Regions from separate parts of the Homo sapiens genome. Here region 2 is linked to region 1. The links come from fine-mapping of genetic effects on gene expression. A gene starts in region 1. The other region holds a variant in brackets. All regions are shown on one strand. Distances are from middle to middle.

Region 1 (11,769 bases):
CTATATTTCCTGGACAGAGCCCAGGAAATGAACCCAGATCCTTCTTGTAAGGCCCTTCCAAGCTGTGTTGATTTATTTCAGCTTGACTAGACACTGAACAAATTAGCAACAGCTTGTGTTTTATGACATGCTGCAAAGAAACAATGCTATCATTCCAAGTGTTACTCTGAAGATGCAGAACCAGAGAAGTTACTGCTATGGCTCTTGGTACACTTAATTTTCTTCCTACAGAAATGCCCTCACTCAATCTGCTGAAGGCTCACTATTATGTGTTTAAGGTTAGCTTTTCATATAACCTAGATTCACTCTTAAATTCCAAATTGCTTATATTCCTAGTGGCAATACAAGACTGCTTTTACATTAAAGGCCCCTAAAAACATTTATCTAACTCAAGTTATGCAAATTTCAAAAAAGTTAACATTTTTTAAATTTACAATTGTTTTAAATAAGTTTAAAAATATGGCCGGGCGCGATGGCTCACACCTGTAATCCCAGCACGTTGGGAGGCCAAGACGGCGGATCACGAGGTCAGGAGATTGAGACCATCCTAGCTAACACGGTGAAACCCTGTCTCTACTAAAAATACAAAAATTAGCTGGGCGTGGTGGCGGGCGCCTGTAGTCTCAGCTACTCGGGAGACTGAGGCAAGAGAATGGCGTGAACCAGGGAGGCGGAGCTTGCAGTGAGCCGAGATCGCGCCACTGCACTCCACCCTGGGTGACAGAGCGAGACTCCGTCCCAAAAAAAATAAAAATAAAAATAAAAATATAAGAAAAATGCTCCAGTAGACTGATGGAAATGGCAATAAAATCACTTTTAAGTAACTGTTAAGACTGAAAAAGAAGACTGTCCTTTAGTAGCTAATAAATCTGACAGCCAGGAGCAGTGGCTCATGCCTGTAATCCCAACAATTTGAGAAGATGAGGCAGGAGGATCACTTGAGCCCAGGAGTTCGAGACCAGCCGAGGCAACATAGTAAGACTCTGTCTCAAAATATATACATATTATATATTATACAATATATAGTTATAGATTATATATATGTGAGATTTTACATATATTTACATATTTTATATGAATAAGTATATAAATAAAAATAAAAAATAAATCTGACAATTACAATTTTTATCCAACAGCAATGAAAGCACCACAAAAAGATGTTTCAAAATGAACTATCAAGAAGGGAGGTAATTCAAAATGACCACAGAGCAGAATCATCCAGGCAAAATATTACAGCAAAGTTATTACTTACACAGTCACAGTCTAAACTCTAACTGTTCTGTCTGTTAAGCTTAAAATGTAAAGTCAGGACCTTTCACAGATTTTTGAAGCCAGGAAATTGGTCTTCACTTATATACTAAAGAAGTCAGCAGTGATCACCTTCTTAAAACTCAAAGGACAGTTGAGTTCCCTGGGCTCTTAGGCTCAGATTCTGCCCTCAGAAAAACAAGCACTCACCTGACTTTTACAAGTCACAACCAAGTTTGCATGCAAGAGAGAAAAATTAATTCTTTTGAGTCTTAAAAACAATGGAACAACACTTTCCTTCAAGCCAACGAAAGGCTTTCTGTAAGAAAGCCCTAAGCAACCTGAAGGCATTTTGGCCCCCAGTCATCAGAGCACTGAATAAGGACAATTAATTTGCCAAGCTCCAAGACCAGAAACCATAGCCTAGTAGGGAGTAGGAGGTTATAAGTGTTTGTTGAATTACTCGAGTAAACTAGAGCAAAGCATAGAAGACTAAATGAGATCCTAAATAAATGCCACTCTGTAGTATAAGCGCAATGCTAAGATTTAAAAAGAAGGGACTCAACTAATTTTGAAAGTTATTTTAAAATAGGATCCATGGGACCCTAACGTAGTAAATGAAATAAAGGTAAATCAATACTACATAATATGGGGCCGGGCACAGTCGCTCACGCCTATAATCCCAGCACTTTGGGAGGCCGAGGCGGGTGGATCATGAGGTCAGGAGATCAAGACCATCGGGGCTAACACAGTGAAGCCCCGTCTCTACGAAAAATATAAAAAATTAGTCGGGCGTGGTGGCATGCACCTGTGGTCCCCGCTACTCGGGAGGCTGAGGCAGGAGAATCTCTTGAACCTGGGAGGCGGAGGTTGCAGTGAGCCAAGATCACTCCACTGCACTCCAGCCTGGACGACAGAGCGAAACTTTGTCTCAAAAATAAATAAATAAATAAATAATAAAAAAATACTACATAATACGCAAGAAACAAGAAAGGAAACTGGCCTACAAAACTACAGACAAAAATTGAAAACCTTTTTTTTTTTTTTTTTTGAGACAGAACCTCGCTGTCTGCCAGGCTGGCGTGCAGTGGCACGATCTCAGCTCACTGAAACCTCCACCTCCTGGGCTCAAGGGATCCTCCCACCTCAGCCTCTGGAGTAGCTGTGATTACAGGTGTGCACCACCACGCTCAGCAAATTGTTGTATTTTCTGTAGAGATCAGGTTTCGCCATGTTGGCCAGGCTGGTCTCGAACTCCTGACCTCAAGTGATCCACCTGCCTCGGCCTCCCAACATGCTGGGATTACAGGCGTGAGCCACCACACCCAGCCAAAAACTTTTTTTAAAAGTCAAGTTTGGCCAGGCACCGTGGCTCACGCCTGTAATCCCAGCACTTTGGGAGGCTGAGGTAGGCGGATCACAAGGTCAGGAGATCGAGACCTTCCTGGCTAACACGGTGAAACCCCGTCTCTACTAAAAATACAAAAAAATTAGCCGGGCATGGTGGCGAGTGCCTGTAGTTACAGCTGCTGGGGAGGCTGAGGCAGGAGAATGGCGTGAACCTGGGAGGTGGAGCTTGCAGTGAGCTGAGATTGCACCACTGCACTCCCGCCCGGGCGACAGAGCGAGAGACTCCATCTCAAAAAATAAATAAATAAATAGATAAATGTCAAGTGTGATTTTTTCAAGCATATTCTTATTGTTTATGTTTACAAGTATGAGTATTCATAGACACATCACACTTATACTAGTATCAAATATGATACATCTGAACTACTACTATACTTGAATATTAACGTAAGCCTCTGAGGAATTCACAGTAATAGAACTGCTGTTATTTAGGATTACTGATCCCCTATTGTCTTGCACTTAGAAGATGTTAATGAAAGATGATGACAGGATTGTGAACACACCAACCTCCCTGAGAACAAATTCATTATATTCAGTTTTCTACAAAACACAAATGAGGATCATTACAAAAGGATTCACAACAAATTCCTCTGGATTTCCATTTCTCCCAGGTAAGTTGAAATATTATTCAAACCACACAAAATTAGTTTACATACAAACTTCACTTTTTAAAGAGATGGGGGTCTCACTATGTTACCCAGGCTGGTCTCGAACTCCTTGGCCAAGTGATCCTCCTACCTCAGCCTCCCAAAGTGTTGGAATTACAGGTGTGAGCCACTGTGCCTGGCCTACACACCACTTAAGGAAACAAATTGAAAAAAAACTATATGTGTGTTTATCTATCTGTCCAGCCACCATGGAGTTCTTGACATATATTCAACATACAGGCCCTGTCCTCAAGGTCATTCTTAATCAGTTCAAATTAAATCTAGTCCTCCATTATAAACTCCAAAAGCAACTTAGTTATTTTGCTAGATATTTTGCCCTCCCCTTTCAAACTATATGTTTAATACTCTAAAAACGGGTTTATGCGCCTTATAGATATCAACAGTGTGTTATGCTCCCCCTATTGACTAATATTCAAAATAACAATGAACTCCCCACGGGTTGCCTTTGAAGTGCTGGGATTCAAAACTATGTTGGTGATTTTTATATTTAAAAACATGAGCTGAATCAACAGTTGTTAGGCAAAGCTGCCGTGTAACGGTCAGATTCCATCAAAACAGGAAAAATTAAAGTTGACAAATGTCAAACTGAAGGGCCAAAAAAAAAAAACGCTCAAGCCTTGAAACACTAAACAATGCAGAAATAAAGCCAAAAGCAAAGAACAGCAAGAAATAGAGCAACATCCTTTAACTGACACAATGGCATGAAATCAATTTCATGTTAATAGCCCTTAAGGGGGTAAGAATTATTTCCCTGCCTCCTGTGCCAACCCCAAGCTGTTTCCTAAGGAAGCCAAGTAATGGTGATCAACAATGTCTGGAGAATTAATAAAAGAAATTAAGAATAAAGATCCATGTTGGCCAGGCGTGGTGGCTCACACCTGTAATCCCAGCACTTTGGGAGGCCGAGGCAGGTGGATCACGAGGTCAAGAAATCGAGACCATCCTGGCCAACATGGTGAAACGCCGTCTCTACTAAAAATACAAAAGTTAGCTGGGCGTGGTAGCGCGCGCCTGTAGTCCCAGCTACTCTGGAGGCTGAGTCAGGAGAAACTCTTGAACCCGGGAGGTGGAGGTTGCAGTGAGCCGAGATCGCACCACTGCACTGCAGCCTGGGGACAGAGCGAGACTCTGTCACCAAAAAAAAAAAAAAATTTCCATGTTAATTAATACAAGTCAGAGTTCTATTTATAATTATTTGGGGCCAGTTTCAGAGGAACTTTAATTGGGCACCCTCATAAGTATGTAAAATCGCCTAAATTCATCACAGATACCTTATGTGTGTTTCAAGAGATATGCGTTCAGCTCAAATAGAAAGCTGAAAGATGGGAGAAGATGCATGGACTATGCACACAAATCTATGTACACACAAATCGGCCTGCACTTGCCGCTCTCCGCTGAGGAAGGAAGGTAGCTTTGGAGTCAGAACTAACAGAAAGTTATGTATGATCTTGGACAAGTAACTTAACCTCTAGTGTCTTATCTGTAAAATAGGGTTATTAATAGTGCTTTTCCCATAGAGATGCTGTGAGGATTAAGTGCACACAGTATGGGCTTAGAAAACGTTAGCTGTTATTATTATCCAAAAGAAACAACTGAGTTCACACTGAAGTAACTGTTTGCACTCTGCATTCAGGAAGAAGAAACGGTCTTGACGTGTGTTTTTACTACCTGTGGAGACTTCTCCCAAACCGCTCACTTCTTCGGAAGGACATAAAACTCAGAATACGCCTGGTTCCCCAGCACAGCCTGTCACTCCTACTATCCTCTGCCCTCGCCGCTCCTATCCTGCCACCGCAGGGCTAGCGGCAAGCAGCGCTAACCTCCGTGCGGTGCTTACTCGGTGCCAAGCACTGTTGTAGCACCTCACACACATTAAATCATTAGATGCTCACAGCAACTTTACGGGGCAAGTACTACTATCCTCACTTCACAGCTAGGGAAATGGAACGGTTTTCTTCTTCCAGCTTTTCGTGAGGACACCAAATCCACTAAGTTCTACTTTGCCAAGGTAATTCATGCTTGACACGTCGGCTCCTGACACTATGCGATTCTGCAAAGCGGGGCAAATGCCCTAATAAGATCAAGTCTGCAAGCAGATTCTTCTAGCGACAGTCCAAGATTTCCAAGTTTGTCCTAACCAAATGAATACAAGAAGAGAGCCTTCAAAATAAACCGGGGCGGGGGGGGGCCGAGCTGCAGCTTGCGGCTCAGCCCGCAAGGCACCCTGAGGGCGCGGCCAGCGGGGAACGCAAACCGCGTCCGTGCACGAGTCCGGGAGCCACAGCCTGGGCCACGGCAATTGACTGCGAACCCACAACAAACCATTCCCACCGAAGCTGTCACGCGCCCGGAGGGAAGTGGCCGCCGCGCCCCGCAGGGGTCAGAAGGACCCGCGGAGAGGAAGAGTGAGGGCGGGCGTGGAGAATTCCTCCCCAGCACTGCGCATCGCCGGGGGCACTGCCTGCCCCGTGCGGCCGCTGCCCACGCACCGCTGGCCACCGGTGCCTGCTCCCCGGAGGGTAAACACCGCCCCACCAGCGCCTCCCTCCCAAGGCCGGAGGTCCTGGCGGCTGGAGCGACCCTGGCCGGTAAGTAGGCACTGGCAGCCCGCGCCGCGCCGACGGGCACCCGCGCAGCCTGCAGAGCCCACAGCCCGGGCGGGCTGCAGCGCCGCGGGGCTGGGCCGGCACGTACCTCGGAGGCGGTGTGTCCAGCGGAGATCCACCCGCAGCAAGTTGGAGGAAAGCGGCGGCAAGTTTCCCCGCCCAGCGCTCGGCGGCGGCGAGCTCCGGCAGCTGCTGCGCCGCGGCAAAACTACGCCATCCGGACCCGCTGGGGACTCTCACCTCCTGCAGGGAGCTCCGGGAATCGCGCAGGGAAAGTGGCCGGGGCGCGAGAGCCGCCGACTGCCCTCCTTCACTCGCTGGGAAGAGGAAAGTGCCGCTCGGCGTCCCCGAAACCCTCGATTACCCCCATCAGGCCGACCCGGCGCACTCGCCCTCCCTCGCACACACGCGGGCGGGGACGGGCAGGACGCCACAGCAATCAGCGCGCGGGGGGAAGGGCGCTCCTCCGCCGGCCCCACCGGGGGCTCTCGGCCGCCCAGAAACTCCTCCTCCCGCCTCCCGCCTCCCGCCTCCTCTCTCCTCCCCCTTTGCCTCCGCGGCTGATGGATGAGCCCCGAATGCTGCTCGAGCCTGTGCTTCCCTTCGGGACGAGGAGGCCGAGAGAGAAGGGGCTAGGGGCGCGGCCGGGCTCAGCGTGCCCGGGTTGGGGCGGCCCCTGTCCTGGGGGAAGCGCGAGGGAGACGTGGGCACGAGCTGCGGGGACTCGCTCCCTCAAACGAGGTCCTTTGAACTTTCCAGGGCTCCCTGGAAGAGTTGGATTTTCATTTGGTTCCTTGGTCTTTATATAAAAGTTCTGAAACCTCAGATAATCTGATCACAGCCTCTTGCCCTCTCCCCAGCAGAGCTCCCCCATGCACACATTCATTCTGTCCCTGTGCTTTTTCCCAACCTCCGGTCCCGCTTGTTGTCACGCTCTGATGGTGGGCGCCGGCGGAGTCTTGCCTCTTCCCCTCCAGCAGCTGAGACTGCATTACCCAGCCGTTCCCCCTGCTAGCTAAATAAATTAATACAAATAATGGAGCTAGGTCAGCATTACCGGCGTTACCCGGAGGTGGGCGCGATATGAACGACAGTCTCGGCGGGGCAACGTCCTAAGTACCTGTGCCTGTGCGACGTCCTAAGTACCTGTGCCTGTGAAGTACACGCTGCAGAAGTTGAACTGCTGGCACCAGAACACCACTCTGATACTCTTGCTTACACCCAGTTTTTCTTATTAAAAAGTATACTTAAGTAACAGGACATTGTTTTACAAACAGGCAGGTGAAATGACCGTGGACTGACAGGTTTCAAAGACCAGACTTCCAGTCCTGACTACTGTGCGACCTTCCACAAATGGCTAACGGCTAATACCCGTCAAGGCTCAGTTCAAATGAAGGGCTTGGCCTAGAAGGCTTCTTCCAGTTCTAAAGGGCTATGGACCTATGCCTTTTTTTTTTTTTTTTTTTTTTTTTTTGAGATGGAGTCTCGCCCTGTCGCCCAGGCTGGAGTGCAGTGGCACAATCTCAATCTCAGCTCGCTACAACCTCCGCTTCTCAGGCTCAAGCGATTCTCCCACCTCAGCCTCCTGAGTAGCTGGGATTACTGACAAATGCCACCACGCCCAGCTAACTTTTTGTATTTTTTGTAGAGGGGGTTGGCAGGGCGGGGGTCTCACTTAGTTGCCCAGGCTGGTCTCAAACTCCTGAGCTCAAGAGATTCGCCTGCCTTGGCCTCCCAAAGTGCTGGGATTAGAGGCGTTAGCCGCTGCACCTGGCTCAATCCTAGGCTTTTAATATGTTGGAGAGTAGAATGAGGAGGCTTCTTATGACATGTTATTTGGAAAGTTATTGAGAGAACAGGAAATATTTCTCGTCCTCTTCCTCTTGTACCTATAGGCAGAGAATCCACCCAATTGCAGAATTGGAGATTCATTCACAAAGGTCAAATGTCATCAGTCACCTGAATTACTGCAAAAATCTCCTCACTGAACCATTTTTTTCCTTACCAATATTCATTGAGCACTGACTATGGGAGAGCCCTGAGTCAGGCATTGGGAATACAAGTAGGCATAATATTCTGAAGGAATAAACAGTCCAGATGGAGCTAGCCTCTGCTTTTATAAAGTCTAAGTTTAAGGCCTTAAGATTTCTCCTAGACTCAAATTAAACAGTATTTGATATGGTTTGGCTGTGTCCCCACCCAAATCTCATCTCGAATTGTAAGTCCCACAATCCCCATGTGTCCTAGGAGGAACCCAATGGGAGGTAATTGAATCTTGGGGATGAGTTTTTCCTGTGCTGTTCTCATGATAGTGAATAAGTCTCACGAGATCTGATGGCTTTAAAAACAGGAGTCTCCGTGTACCAGCTCTCTCTGCCTGCTGCCATCCACGTGATATGTGACTTGCTCCTCCTTACCTTCTGCCATGATTGTGAGGTCTCCCCAGCCATGTGGAACTGTAAGTCCAATAAACCTTTCCTTTGTAAATTGCCCAGTCTCGGGTATGTCTTTATCAGCAGCATGAAAACAGACTAATACAGTATTTATGCCTTGTTAACAAGTTTTAGTTTCAAGTACAGATGTGAACACTTGAACTAGGTGTGAATATTTAATCCCACATTTAAATGCATCGGCCAGGTGAGGTGGCTCATGCCTATAATCTCAGCAATTTGGGAAGCCGAGGTGGGTGGATCACTTGAGGTCAGGAGTTCTAGACCAGCCTGACCAACATGGTGAAACCCCATCTCAACTAAAATACAAAAATTAGCCAGGCATGGTGGCGGGCACCTGTAATCCCAGCTACTTGGGAGGCTGAGGCAAGAGAATCGTTTGAACCCAGGAGGCAGAGGTTGCAGTGAGCTGAGATGGTGCCATTGCACTCTAGCCTGGACAAGAGCAACACTCTGTCTCAAAAAAATAAAATTAAATTAAATGTATCAATCATGTTAAGGCCTTCTAAATAAAATGGCCTGGTAGATAATTTAGGAGTGTCTTGTCTTTAAAGAGTGATGAAGTGACTGGTCCCCGTAGAGCCAGATTCACAACAGTAACCATCAACATCTGAGCCAGCGTGGGTACTGAATTCTTTTTTGTTTGTTTGTTTTTGTTTTGAGACAGAGTCTCGCTCTGCTGCCGAGGCTGGAGTGCAGTGGCGCAATCTCAGCTCACTGCAACCTCTGCCTCCTGGGCTCAAGCAATTCTCCTGCCTCAGCCTCCTGAGTAGCTGGGATTGACAAGCACGCACCACCATGCCTGGCTAATTTTTGTATTTTTAGTAGAGACGGGGTTTCATACCATGTTGGCCAGGCTGCTCTCGAACTCCTGACCTCAAGTGATCCACCCGCCTTGGCCTCCCAAACTGCTGAGATTACAGGCATGAGCCACTGCGCCTGGCCATGGGTACTAAATTCTATACATATAAACACATTTACTTCTCACAGCCCTCTAAGAATATGTATAAATGAGGCCGATATACATGCCTTTATACAAACTGAGATCTTGTCCACGATTCAATCTCACATCCACCGACCTCAAAACCTGTCCACGATTCAATCTCACATCCACCGACCTCAAAACCTAAGTCCTTAACCACCAGGTTCTTCTACCTGTCATCAGAAGCTTTATAGACTGGCAAAATAAAAGGGCTCTTTTTTTTAATTCTGAGCTATTTAGTTTCAGTAGATGATATGGAAAAACACAAGAAATTACATCAGTATTTACAAAATTAACAATGTCTACAGAGATGTTTTCTCTTTAAATCTTTACAATATGATATTAAAAGCAGAAATCCAGATACCTCAAGCATAGACGAAAGGTTTAAAATAAACTTGAATTTTTGGTTCCTGAGCAAAGCTCTATAAAAAAGGGTTCCCCTACCTCTTTTCTTTCTTTCTTTCTTTTTTGAGACGGAGTTTCCCTCTTGTTGCCCAGACTAGAGTGCAGCAGCGCGATCTCAGCTCACTGCAACCCCCACCCCCACCTCCCAGGTTCAAGTGATTCTCATGCCTCAGCCTCTCAAGTAGCTGGGATTACCAGCACCCACCACCATGCCTGGTTGATATTTGTATTTTCAGTAGAGACAGGGTTTTGCCATAACTCCTGACCTCAAGTGATCCACCCACCTTGGCCTCCCACAGTGTTGGGATTACAGGCGTGAGCTGCCGTGCCCAGTTGCCCAACCTCTTATTAATGGCAATATTAACTGATTTCTAAGGGAATGGATGCTCCCTTTCACTAATTTCTCATGGAGAACTGCATTCAAGCTACAGTATTTGTTACTGTAAGATACCAGCTTTCTTTTGGTCCAAAGTGGTTTCTTGGTCATTTGTTTGGAATTGTTTCAAACAGGATTGTAAGCAGGGGGGTGAAATTGAGGTGCATTACTTGCATTAAAAATGTTTGCCAGCAGAGTTTCAGTGATTTACTGAGGCTGTTTTTCATACAAGGAACCACCCCTCCTGTAGGTGTGGACTCACATGTTGACAGTGACTCAGATTTAGTGGCATGTCTCCAGATTCTGTTGATTAGCAGTTCACAGTCTGCTAATCAGACTTTCTTTAATCAGATAAAGTCTAAAAGACTTTATCATTAGAAAAATCATTTGGTTGTTTCTCTATAATCTTTTTTTTTTTTTTTTTTTTTTTTTTTGAGACACAGTTTCCGTCTTGTTGCCCAGGCCGGAGTGCAGTGGCGCCATCTTGGCTCACTGCAACCTCCACCTCCTGGGTTCAAGTGATTCTTCTGCCTCAGCTTCCCGAGTAGCTGGGACTAAAGGCACACGCCACCACGCCCTGCTAATTTTTGTATTTTTAGTAGAGACAAGGTTTCACCATATTGGCCAGGCTGGTCTCAAACTCCTGACCTCGTGATCCACCTGCCTCAGCCTCCCAAGGTGCTGGGATTACAGGCATGAGCTACTGTGCCCAGCTATTATCCTCATTTTACAGATTAGGAAATGATGCACAGAGAGGTTATGTAACTTGCCCAAGGTCACACAACCAGCAAGTGGCAGAGTCAGGTGGCCTGGCTACAGAATCCGTTCATGCTCTGAACCTCCACTTTGTGCTACAGGTGAAAGACACCTTCTACTCATAAAAAGAGAGTCTCATATTTCCTTTTTTTTTTTTGAAACGGAGTCTTGCACTGTCACCCAGGCTAGAGTGCAGTGGTGCAGTCTTGGTTCACTGCAACCTCTGCCTCCTGAGTTCAAGCGATTTTCCTGCCTCCACCTCCTAAGTAGCTGGGAATACAGGTGCCTACCACCACGCCTGGCTAATTTTTGTATTTTTAGTAGAGATGGGGTTTCACCATGTTGGCCAGGCTGGTCTCGAGCTCTGTGATCCAGCTGCCTCGGCCTCCCAAAGTGCTGGGATTACAGGTGTGAGTCACTGAGCCTGGTCTCTCTTTTTTTTTTTTTTAAGTTTACTTCAAAGGCTAAGTACAGTGGCTCAGGCCTGTAATCCCAGTACTTGGGAGGCCGAGGTGAATCACTTGAGCCCAGGATTTCGAGACCAGCCTAGGCAATGTGGTGAAACCCAGTCTCTACAAAAAATACAAAAATTAGCTAGGCGTGAGGGTATGTGCCTGTAGTCCCAGCTACTTGGGAGGCTGAGGTGGGAGGATCACTTGAGCCCGGTAGGTTGAGGCTGCAGTGAGCCGTGATCGTGCCACTGTACTCCAGCCTGGGCAACAGAACTGAGATCTGTCTCAAAGAAAAAAAAAAAAAACTCGATTCTTTAAAAACTTTCAAAAGATAAAAATGAAAGTTTGTTTAGAAGAACTATTACCCCACCACCACCACATAAAAATAGATTCCTTTCACTAATTTAAAGTTTGTC
Region 2 (11,769 bases), 200 kb before region 1:
TTTTGACTTGTCAACTTCTGAGAGTGATATGTTAAAATATCCTACTGTGATGAATTTGTCAGTTCCTCTTTTTCCTCTTTATAATTTTTATAATTCTGTCACTTTTTTTTTTTTTTTTGCTTTAAAGCATTGGAGTGTGAGAACATAATATATAAGGATATTAACTGCAGCAGAATATCTTGGCAAAAAACTAAAATGTCATTACTAGTGAATTGGCTGAATTCATTGTAAAAAATATTATGCAGCCACCAAAAAACATGAAATTTGTTCCGTATCTAATAATCTACAGGAGGTCGATGTTAAGTGAAAAAGGCAAGTTGCAGAGTATGTATATTGTGATCCCATTTTTAGTAAACGAAACAAAAACTTCTATATTCATGAACACGTTTCAATATGTTTGAGTTTGAAAAAAGGCTGTTAACATCAGCTCCTCTAGGTAAGTGACTGGAGGGAGTAGGAAGGGTAGCGTTAACAAATATCTTTGTATTTCACTTCCTATGAGAACCATATTTTTATTTGGGCAATTTAAGTTAAGCCTAATAAGAAAATGATGATGATCAGCAGTCATCTTAGGAGCCCTGAGAAAGATATGCCATATGAAAAAAGCAAGTCACAGGCTGGGCGTGGTGGCTCACGCCTGTAATCCCAGCACTTTGGGAGGCCGAGATGGGTGGATCACTTGAAGTTAGGAGTTCGAGACCAGCCTGGCCAACATGGTGAAACCTTTTCTCTACTAAAAATATAAAAATTTGCCTTGGGTTTAGTAGAAACCCCATCTCTACTGAAAATATAAAAATTAGCTTTGGGTGACACAATGAGACCCTGTCTCAAAAAAAAAAAAAAAAAAAAGAAAAAAGAAAAAAGCAAGTCACAACTGTTATAATCCAATTTTTTTTTTTTTTTTTTTTTGAGACAGGGCCTTCCTCTGTCACCCAGGCTGGAGTGCGGTGACATGATCTCAACTCACTGGAATCTCCACCTCCTGGGTTCAAAGATTCTCGTGTCTCAGCCTTCTGAGTAGCTGGGATACAGACGCATGCCACCCCGCCCCGCTAATTTTTGTATTTTTAGTAGAGACAGGGTTTCACTATGTTGGCCAGGCTGGTCTCGAACTCCTTACCCCAAGTGATCCACCCACCTTGGCCTCCCAAAGTACTGGGATTACAGGCATGAGCCACTGCACCGGGCCATAATCCAATCTTATTTAATGACATGGACATGTTGATATGAATTAAGGAAACATCTGGGAACACATACACTAAATCGGTATTCTTATATTCAAGTTGGAGGATTATGGAGGCCTTTTCATTGCTACATGTCTGTATTCTTTGCATTCATTTTATATATATATATTGTGTGAACAAGAAAGATAATTTTTTCTTACAAAAAGCCTATGGACTCTCACCAAAAACAACAGCCGAGACATAGCTGCAATAAAATCCTACATACAATTCCAGCCACTTCACAGACTCTCTGAAGCCCATTTATTAATCACCCAGGTTTTGACTCCAGTAGACACAAGGAGAGTTTAATGGCAAAAAAAATTCATTGACCTGCCAATTACTCCCACATATCCTAAGAGGAGCTGGTTGCAGGGGGCACCGTAGCTGTAAAATGGAGCTTAACACTGTTCCGGCTCTGTGGGTACCCACCTGTGTAACATGTGAGGGATGGGCTGCTGGCCTTGATGCCAAATCATCTGAGTCACTAAAAATCTCAAAAGGGGAGTGTGGCCTGTAAATGCATATTCAATGCTGTAATGTAATATTTGATACTGAACGAGAACTTTTTTCATTACAAATTTGTCTGGGGGTGAGGATGCCAAATAGAACTGAGCTCCGGAGAGGTGAGAGAAGTAGCTGGGAAAGCAGGCAGATTAGCCTCCTCGGAACCATGCTTAGGAATCTGAACTGTATCCTGAAGGCAAATGGGGCAATTACCTAAAGGCCTCAAAATGGAGTCTTTTTAGGATTACTTTGGCTGCATGGTGGAGAAAGAATTGAAGGGAGCAAAATGGAAAGTCGGCATACCAGTTAGGAGGCTGCTGCAGTGACTCAAGAGACAATGGCTCTTGAGCAGTGTGTAACAACAGTCAGAGTAGGAATAAGTCAGTGGTTTGAAGAAAGAGACATTTTAGAGGTAGAATAACACTCGGACTTATTGATTTGGGAAGAGGGGAGCCAAAGAGGCTGTAGTTAGATTCCCAGGTTTCTGGCTTGGACAACTGGAAGACGGTGGTACCATATGGAGATACGGAATGCTGGAAGCAGCAATGGGGTATTTGAAGGGGCTGAAAATAGTAGACCTTAAATGTATATTATGTTTCTTTCTTTGACTCTGGGAGATTGACAGAAGGCCCAGGAATGGTTTCCAGGGTGAGACACCCACTTCCAAGTCTCCTGCCATGTTTTTCTGAGAAGAGCGACAGCTCCTGCTGCACTCTTCTTCTAGTCCATCCGCCCTTCCCTCTGCTCTGGACCTCTTAGCCTTTCTCCTCCCACTTCCTCATCAACACGGAGCAGACGATCCATTCAGGAGAAAGTCACAGTGAAAAAAGTTACATGAGCCTTAGGGTAGAATTTAATGATAACAAGACACATATTAATAACTGATATATATCTTTTTATTATGCACAGATAAAAGATTTAAAACTGTGGTTATCAAAACTATACATCTAAGCATCTTCACAAAATAGCTGACACACTGAACAGAGAAAAGAATACAACAGGGGTGTTCAAACTGGCCACAGGGATTTTAAGGGTACTCGTTTTACCCTCATAGATGATGAAAACCAGCAACAAAATCAGGCTCATTCAGGAAAAACCAGAAGAGAGAAGTATTGTATTTGGAAACTGATAATAGTCCTTTTTAGAAAAACATCTGTCAGTTTCATGAACAACCCCCAGATAAAACAAACATGAAAAAAATCACATAGGACTCACCCAACAAAATGTGCTCTGTTAACACAACCAGCAGTACAATCATCATTCAAACCATGAGGTAGTTACAGTACAAAAAGACTGGCACGCGTGTGAGCACCCCACACACACTCACAATCATGCCCACTAAGAACACAAGCAGGAAATGGATTTACAATCTTATTACAAGGCAAAGAAAAAAACCATTTTTTTTGTTTAGAAAATGCTATAGAAACAGTTTAGACAGAAGAAATCTCTGGCTTTTTAAAATACAGAGTAACAGCTGGTAAACACCACATGGTGAAAAGCTATAGCGTATTATACAGACAATCTGCCTTGGAGTTTGGGGCATTTTAACAACAGCTTCAGCATCAAACAAACAACAAAATGGCCTCTGCAAATTAAGGGTGTAGCCTGCAGAAATAACAAAAGACTGCAGATACAAGAGTTCAGCTGAAATACAACAATACTTTTAAAGAAACTTGTAGTACACGTTATAAAAGTAGAGCTTGTACTTTGTATTAAAACTGTAAAGTGTGAAGCAATTAGAAATACTGTAATGAGAAGCTAGGGAGAAAATACCTTATTTTTTTCATGTTCATTTTTTAGAAACATTTCAGAAATACTTAACGACATTCACTCTCCAATATGAGATTAGGTTTTATCGACACAGATTTCTTGATCTGAATAATAATTCTGACAATGAGACCCAAACAAATAAAAGGTGATTTTTTTCCTCTCTCTCTCTTTTAAAAAGATCTTTTGGTTTGCATCTATAAATTTGTAAATTAATTTTAAATTATTTATAAAATCATTGGCAATGTAGCATCTCTCTTAAAAATATATATTTAAATATATTACAGAAGGTTTTAACCCTGTCCTTCTAAGACATCAATCTTTTAATATCTCCTAATAGCTAATTTTCTTTTTAACACGATGGAAAAGATTTTTTAAAAAAGCAAAGGACTGATCGAAAGAATTCACAGTAGCTGAAATTAAACATTTCATATGGAGTAACTTAAATTTATCTAAAACACTTAAATATATCTTTATACACAAATTTTGTAGTAAAATATAGCTATAAGTGACTTAAAGACTCTAGTCTTCTTTGAAGACATCTTTAAACTTTTTTATACATAGAATATGCTGAAACAATACATTCCACCGAAGGTTAGGCAAAGCGCAATATTTTCAAACACAGGTAGCGTAATCTAGGTCCTCCACTCTGATACCCTTCTGTTAAAAAAAAATTAAAGGAAAAAAATTCTCTAAACTCATGTCTTCTTCGTTTGTATATGGAAATCTAGAAATTTTTCAGTAGATCAATGTAGATAGCCTGGAAATCTCAGCCCTAAAGTAATGTTTTAGTTAAAATGTTCCTTATTGAAAAAAAAAAATGTTCCTTATTGAATGTGTATATCTATCAGGTAAGTCATATTATTACTCAACGATTTGGTAAAAATGATTGTCAATTTCCACATACTTGTTTCCCATGTAGACACTGCCCTAAGGTTTTAAGCTTCATCAGGATTACCTACTGAGGTTCCATTCACAGACAACCAGGCATAACTTCCTTATTTTAAGGGCAGTGGGATTTGCTTATGAATATTTTGGGGGTAGAATCTATCTTGTTCTACTTATGGAATTCTAAGTTGTTTGGGGGAAATTCTGGAAAAAGAATAATTTGCAATGAAGCTATCTTCAGCAGTAAAATAATTTAGCATGATAATTCCCCCCTGGCATTCTTTTTTTTTTTTTTTTTTTTTAACAAGGAGGTATCACTGAGCTTATTTTAGCTGCAAAGTGGCATCATATTATTCCATTTAATGAAATTCACCTCAAGCCCTTTTTGACATATTAAATATATGGGATATATTTAAGGCAAGAGAAGTAAGGCAATCCAAATGAGTGCCCTTTTCCAATCTCAGCACTGTCTTGGTGGAATTGGTGACACTATTCAGATAACCAACTGGAGACCGACAGGATTTGCCATGCATTTGCATCTTGCTACAGTTTGGTTTTTATGAAAGGGCCTATTTTTTTTTAAGTTGACATATTTTGAGTGGAAACACTCACCCTACCAAATATACTTAAGTTGCAACTCTAAAAGCATAAGGACATTTTCAAATTTTCTCTTCTTCAACTGAGAAAATGAATGTGCCAGGTGACATATTATATACTTGTACTTGCATACACATAGAAATATATCACTGTGCAAATTCGTCCTTGACTTTATAACTGAATTTCACCTCAAATTATACATTAATTTGCAGAACAAAATATTAGGAATGGGCACAAATCTGTGGTTCCTGATTTTGGTCATTTTCAATTTCTGTAGGCCTGTAAGAAATACAAAATTTGCATTAAGACATTTTGCAGTGGTGTATGCAAGTATGGGAAGAAACAGGAAGCTGATAAGGTCATCAGCATTGGTTTTGGCCCAGGGCACAAGAAAGGAATGTTGCCTTAACACTTGTCAGGGTGCAGTCCCTGAGGGCAGCACCCATCAAGGGACACATCAGACCCCACAGGTTGTGGCAGCAAGGTCAGAAGTGTGCATCCAGACAAAGGTGCAAATTAGACAGGAGGATCGCTTAGAAAGCCTCAAAGCATTTCTTGTTTTACATCTTGGTTCAGATATAAAGAATCTTTGGCCGCATCTCCTCACTGGTTCTACTATCTGGCTATTAACCCTTTACCAACTCCTTGAGTCTGGGTAAAACTCAGGGCCCCAAATTATGGATGTTCTCACCTGGACAAAGCAGCATTTTAAAAACTGGCATGTGTTTCACATTGAAAACCCCCAAGCCTGTGAGGGGCTGGTGGAGAAGACCACCATTTTAGCTTTCTCACATGAATTCTAGTGTGGTACAGAAGCCCAGGGTCATGTTTATACTAGCCCTGGGTGTGGGGTGAATACAACGGGTGATCTTTATACTGAAATTCACTCTGTCTTTACAAGGGAACCAAAATCCAGCCCTCTGAGTCTGGACACGAGGCTCAGCCATTGGTCCTGCCCTTGGCAGTAGCTGAGCTGAGCTGGGCTGGGCTGGGTTGGGCCGGGTTGGGCTGGGTTGGGCTAGGCCGTGCTGCTGCTGGAGCAAGGCGTGCTCTGCGTGCTGCCGATGCTGTGGGCAGCACTGCTGTTTTCCGAGGCTGGCGGGGAGGTGGGGACTTGCTGCCTTCCTGCTGTCTCCCCTGCAGTTAATAAAGAAAAGGCAGAGTCAGAGAAAGACGCATATTATGTATGTGCATTCCTGAAAAGATCATTTATTCCGCATTTGCCATTTTAACTGATATTTTTCTCAACCAGGGCAGAAGCAACTAGACTAGGTCCTAGATGGCTGGAATACCTTCTAAAATAAGGTTTTGCTATTTGTTGTTTTATTTTTAAAGCATCATGAATGGGAAAAAGAAGACAGCTGACTGACAGGCAGCTCTAGTGGCTAAGACCCCTGAGAGTTGATGACAAAGTCCCTGGATTTCAGGGTCCACAACCTTTGATGAAATCACCACCACTTGGTCTGTGTGAGCTGGCAACTGACCAGCACCTGTATTCAGGAAACACTGTCCATCTTCTCTCATAAAGACACTGTAGGATTTGGAGGGTGTGACCTTTCAATTGTAGTTAAGAGAACCCTGGAAGTTTGGGAGCCTTGTTCTGAATGCACTTGTTAAAAACAGGAGTGAAATATAGACTTTGTCCTAGCTACAGTAGAGAGAGCCTTGTGTGCCAAACAGATAAATTACCTGAGAAACCGGGGTGGGGGATAGCTGCTATTGGAAAAACCTTTTGGGGAAGGGGTTTAGCTGTTTGCACATGGGGACTGCAGTTGCCAGC[G/A]AATGGCCTCTCTTCCCCACTGAGGTTCCCTGTGGGGTGCAGTGTGAGTATCTCCTAACACTTTAAGCATCCCACTTTTCATTACACACCCCACTGCATTTTAGCTAAAGCCATTCATCGTGCCAAATGTGCAGTGCTTTGGAGAGGAAGGAAACCTCAAGTCACACACATGGTTTGCATTTAACAGTGCAAAAGGCCCTAGAGTTAGTCTTCTCTTCGGCAAAACCGGCCTCAGTGCAACCCTCAAAAAATGGCTCTAGGTAGGGAAAAGCGATCAGGGCTCTCCAATAAAAAACACTGCATTTACTTTGAAAAGTCAGAGCATAAACTTCATAAACTTCTTGTAAGCAGCATCCCCTCCTTCAATGTGGGAAACCCCAGAGGGCCAGGCCTGTTTATGAATGAGCCTCCTCTTTCCTGTCATGCTGAAATACACATCTATCAGCCGGAGATAAGCAACCCTTCCAGCTGCTTCATTAAAACAAAACACTCGAGGAAAGGCCCTGCCCTCCAGTGCAGGAACTTGGCCCCATTACTTCCATTCTCTTTCTGGGGCCCCTCAAAAGCCTCTGTGAAAAAAGCAGTTCTGCAAAATGTAGAACTGGCTCATGTCCCTGGGTCTGGTTACAGCTTTTCCTGTCACCCCTTTCATGAACCACACAGCTATACACACTTTTGCATCAACCTCAAAGTATTTATGTGCTTGTTGTAAGTTTGGCCCTTGTTGTACTTCCTCTAATTATCTTTTCTTCTGGGATTGGCGGGATGGATAGGGGACTGGGGTCAATATTCCTGAGAAGCGGAGAAGCACTGCCTTTTTTTTTTTTTTTTTTTTTTTGTGAGACGGAGTCTCGCTCTGTCCCCTAGGATGGACTGCAGTGGCATGATCTTGGCTCACTGCAACCTCCACCCCCCGGGTTCAAGCAATTCTCCTGTCTCAGCCTCCCGAGTACCTGGGACTACAGGCATGTGCCACCATGCCTGGCTAATTTTTTGTATTTTTAGTAGAGACACGATTTCACTGTGTTAGCCAGGATGGTATCGATCTCCTGACCTCGTGATCGGCCCACCTTGGCCTTCCATAGTGCTGGGATTACAGGCGTGAGCCACCACGCCCGGCTGAAACACTGCTTTTGACTTTTTTGGAAACCTATGTTTTGGACCCTCCCCAGCACTGCCCTCTACTCTTCATGTGTGTGTATAATTAAGGCTGGGGAAATTAGCCTCCATGGCAATAACTTTCTGCCAAAAATTCACTTTCCCCAGAGTAGGAGCTTTATTTCTAGAAGGGAATCAAATCTCTTAACTATTCTGAGGTCAAAACAAAAACAACCTCCAGAGACCCAAACAACTCTAGATATACTTTAAGAATTTGACTCCCTTACAAACCACATGTTGGTCCATACCCAGCTGGATCCTCACATAATCAATCAGAAGGACTAATGTGGCTATGCATGAACCACATTTTAAAAATATTTTTTCCTATTTTAATAAGGATACATCTGAAAAGCAGGAGGCCAACTCCATCTTTTTCTTTTTTGGCTCACCTGGGCTTTGTTTGCTCAGCCCAACAGCAGGTAAAAGAGAAGGCCTTGCTTCATCAAGCAATAGGGAGCAAGTGTGCTCCTCCAGGATCTGCCCTGTGCTTGATTATTCACATTCAGGAAAAGTGCCAGGACTATGCCCTGCCCAGGAAGCCTGAATATCTGCTTTCCGATGTCTATTTGCCAAATATAATTTGTTGCCATGTCAGTTTATTTTCATCCGTGCCCATTAAAGAGACCTTTCAACTTCCCGAGTTTTGGGAACTCTTGTTCTGGTAATGCAAAACACTTCAAAACAAAACCCCAAACAAAACAAAGAAGCCTCCGCACTCAAGACTGCAGGATGCATCTCACCAGCTGGATAAGTCAAGTTAACCTAATATTATATTGACTTTGATCCAATAATGGGCCAAGGTGAGTCTCTGTCTGAGAATCTGCTGGGAAATATTGAAAGTCCCCTCTTCAGACCATCCTTTCCAGTTCTGTGGCTATTTTCACATGTAAGATGCAAGGTTTCTCAATATAACCATGTTTTAAAAATAACTCTTACCTTTTGACAGATTAAGTTTTTTCACTGTCAAATGGAAGTGATGCTACAGAAAAATTCACCATGAGGAAGAAAGTTGAATGTACAGATGCTTCTACTTAATGGGCCAACAGAGACCCCTGGGTTTTCTGAGATGGGTCTTTGGCTGTCTGCTCTCCACTGCAGTGGTCTCTGATTTCGTGGAGCACCAACTTTCTCTAAAACATCCCTTGGGTGACAAGTATAACAAGGCTGCTCCTAAAGGAGATGGGCAGGGAGGACCTCGTGGCTAAGCAGACTAGGCCCAATTAACACATCTAAGAAATTCAAGGAGGGCGCCTTGCTTGTAAATAAATATCAGACTTGGCCAGCAGAGGAAATGTACTCAGTCTTCCTGCTTTCCTCCTAAAATATCAAACCACATTGAGGGAACAGAGATTTGAGAGGAGGGAGAGTGAGTAGGGGAGAGAGGAATTTGGTGCCTGACATACTCTGGAGGAGGAGAGTACACTGAGGATAAGGACACTAAGGATTAATTCCACCCATCTCACAGTTAGCCTATGGCTGGGCCTAGATACTGCCAGAGATGCCTCAAGAAATAGAAAAACAAAGCCAGGTGCAGTCACTTACAGTGCCAGCTTAGGAGGCTGAAGGGGGAGGATCTCCTGAGGCCAGGAGTTAGAGACTGCAGTGAGCTATGATCTCACCTGTGAAGAGCCTCTGCACTCCAACCTGGGCAACAGAGAGAGACCCTGTCTCTACCAGGGGGAAGAAGAAAAAAAGAAGCAAAAACAAACAAACAAAAAACATTTCTTAATGGAGAATGTTTTATTTCTTTAGCATGGCATGGAGTTGCCCAGATCTGACTTCCTGCTACCTCTTTGGCGTCTATATTACAACTGTATTCTTATTTCTAAGTCTTTCACCATGGCAGGTCCTGGGGAAGAAACTATTCAAGAAAGATGTGAATAGCATGGGAGGACTCTGTGGGGAAACAAGAGAAGAGTTAAAAAGAAAGGTGAGGGCAAGCTTGGTATTTAGGCCAAAGGAGACTATTGCAAATACTCTCCATGAGGATTATTACAAATAGGAGCAGACAGCTGTTCTTTATCTCCCTGGAGGGCAGAACATGAGGAAATGAGTTTAAATGGCAGGACTAGGGATTTAGATCAGATAGAAAAGAACTTGCTGATTATGAGGATTGGTTAGTTATAGAGGGAATTTATGGAATCTCCTTCTCAGGAGATATTTAAGCACAGGATTGAAAACCATATACCTGGGGACACTTTAGATTTAATATTCCTTGATGCTAGAAAGAAAATAAAGATATTTTCTTCTAGATCTACGTGTTGGATGCGATTTTCTATCAATTAATGTCTCAGTTTCTTGATCTCCTAACTGTAATTAATTCACAAGCTCACTCTTTAAGCAGAGTGAACGATACTACCTTTAATTTAGAGAAGTCTTCAATCACTTTTTATCATTTTCAAATTTCATTCCTCCCCAGCCTCCACACAAAAGACTCTTCTTTTGCAGCAAAATTCTCCAGGAGGGGTGAGTTAGATGTTGTTAGAAGTCACGGGGAAAAGACTATATCAAGAATTAAAGTTTTTCACAATGTCCTGCCTACTACTTTCTTTCTATATTCCTGCAGTGTGGCCAACCTGTTTGTATATGGACTTTGGTTTTCTGTGGTATCTTCCCTGCCTTTGTGGCCCCTGAATAGGATGCAAAATCTGATAATAACTAAGAAGAAGAAGAAAAGCAAGAGGGAAAGAGAAATCAGGTGGAGGAGGAAGGCTGTCCTCCACAGCTATCGCTACAACCCTGAGTCAGAAACTGGACTTGAAGCTCTGGTTTGTTCAATGGCTAGACTTGCTACCTTAGTAGGTATATTAGTTGTGTTTCCCTTTAGTCAACACAGAGATAATCACTACTTCACAGGGTTATTAGGGTGAGCGTACTTAAAACAAGAAATGCGTAATAAAAGCTTTTTCAACTTTAAGGCTGCTCTGATGTGTAAGCAGAAAAAAAATCTAAGCGTGTAAGGAACACTGTTTCACAGAGCATAATAAAATGCTGAAGTTTTGAATTAGGTGTGCCCGTCCCAACTCATCAGGCAGTTTTCAACAACCCTCCATGGAACACACCATGTGTTCTTAAAGCAAAAGTCAAGCGCATACCCAAAAGTCCACCCAAGTCAGGTAAGAGGTTTTCATTAGAAGTAGCTCGGGAGGTGCCAATGTGTTCAGAGGCCTGAGGTTTCTCCAGGTTCCCAAGTGTAGCCCGATGAAAAGAGAAACAGCAAGCAGACAGACTAAGGTGTGATAAGGTAGGAGGCAAGAGACCAAGTCCCAGGGATCAGACAGATGCAGCTGGAACAGACGGAAACCCCAATGTGACTGTAAAGAAGGCAGGCTCCACTCTCTTTTCACTCAAATGCCCATATCATTATTTTATAAAACCATTAAACACAGAGGTTAAGATGAATGCCTTCGGCTTTCCTGGTGTCTATTGGTGTGTCTTTTTCTCTCAAAAAACAAAGCACCTCCCGGAGCATCTGGCCATTCATACCCTTCCCCCTTCTTCTCACCCTCCCCTCAGTTTCCATAAAAGGTTAATAGAAAACTTAATTCTTCAGATTAGAAACACTTCTTCTTTCTCCAGTGAGACTTCCCTTGTCAGTTCTCCATTTTTCTGACACAGTTCATCAGGTCATTGCTTTCCTAAAGGTTGGCATGTGTGCCTGTAGCTGGGTTTCTGCCTGAGCCAATCTGCTTATAATCAGTCTGTTTGGTTATTCTCTTCCTCTGAATATATGGGAACTCCACGACAGCAAGGACTTTCTGTTGCTCATGGCTATTTTACCAGTGCCTAGAATAGCGTTGGCATTTAACAATAGCTTAAAAAATCCATTGAATAAGTTGAGTGAAAGAACGA

What was found. PIP is the estimated chance that this variant, and not a neighbour inherited with it, causes the effect.
Region 2: its variant is fine-mapped to the expression of TGFBR3 in whole blood (INTERVAL, PIP above 0.99).

What each region holds. Positions count from the first base shown.
Region 1 is chr1:91,879,858-91,891,626 of GRCh38, forward strand. It overlaps TGFBR3 (transforming growth factor beta receptor 3), which reads right to left and starts at 6,294. Exons shown (of 17, transcript NM_003243.5): 1 at 6,021-6,294. RefSeq lists enhancers at 5,102-5,865, 5,866-6,628 and silencers at 5,771-5,980, 5,991-6,070, 6,421-6,560.
Region 2 is chr1:91,677,742-91,689,510 of GRCh38, forward strand. It overlaps TGFBR3 (transforming growth factor beta receptor 3), which reads right to left. Exons shown (of 17, transcript NM_003243.5): 17 at 2,602-6,116. The coding sequence ends at 5,998. Among named protein-coding and RNA genes, the nearest start is that of CDC7, 180 kb to the left of the region's middle. RefSeq lists enhancers at 6,015-6,518, 6,998-7,077. The variant G/A (reference allele first, on the strand shown) is at 6,760.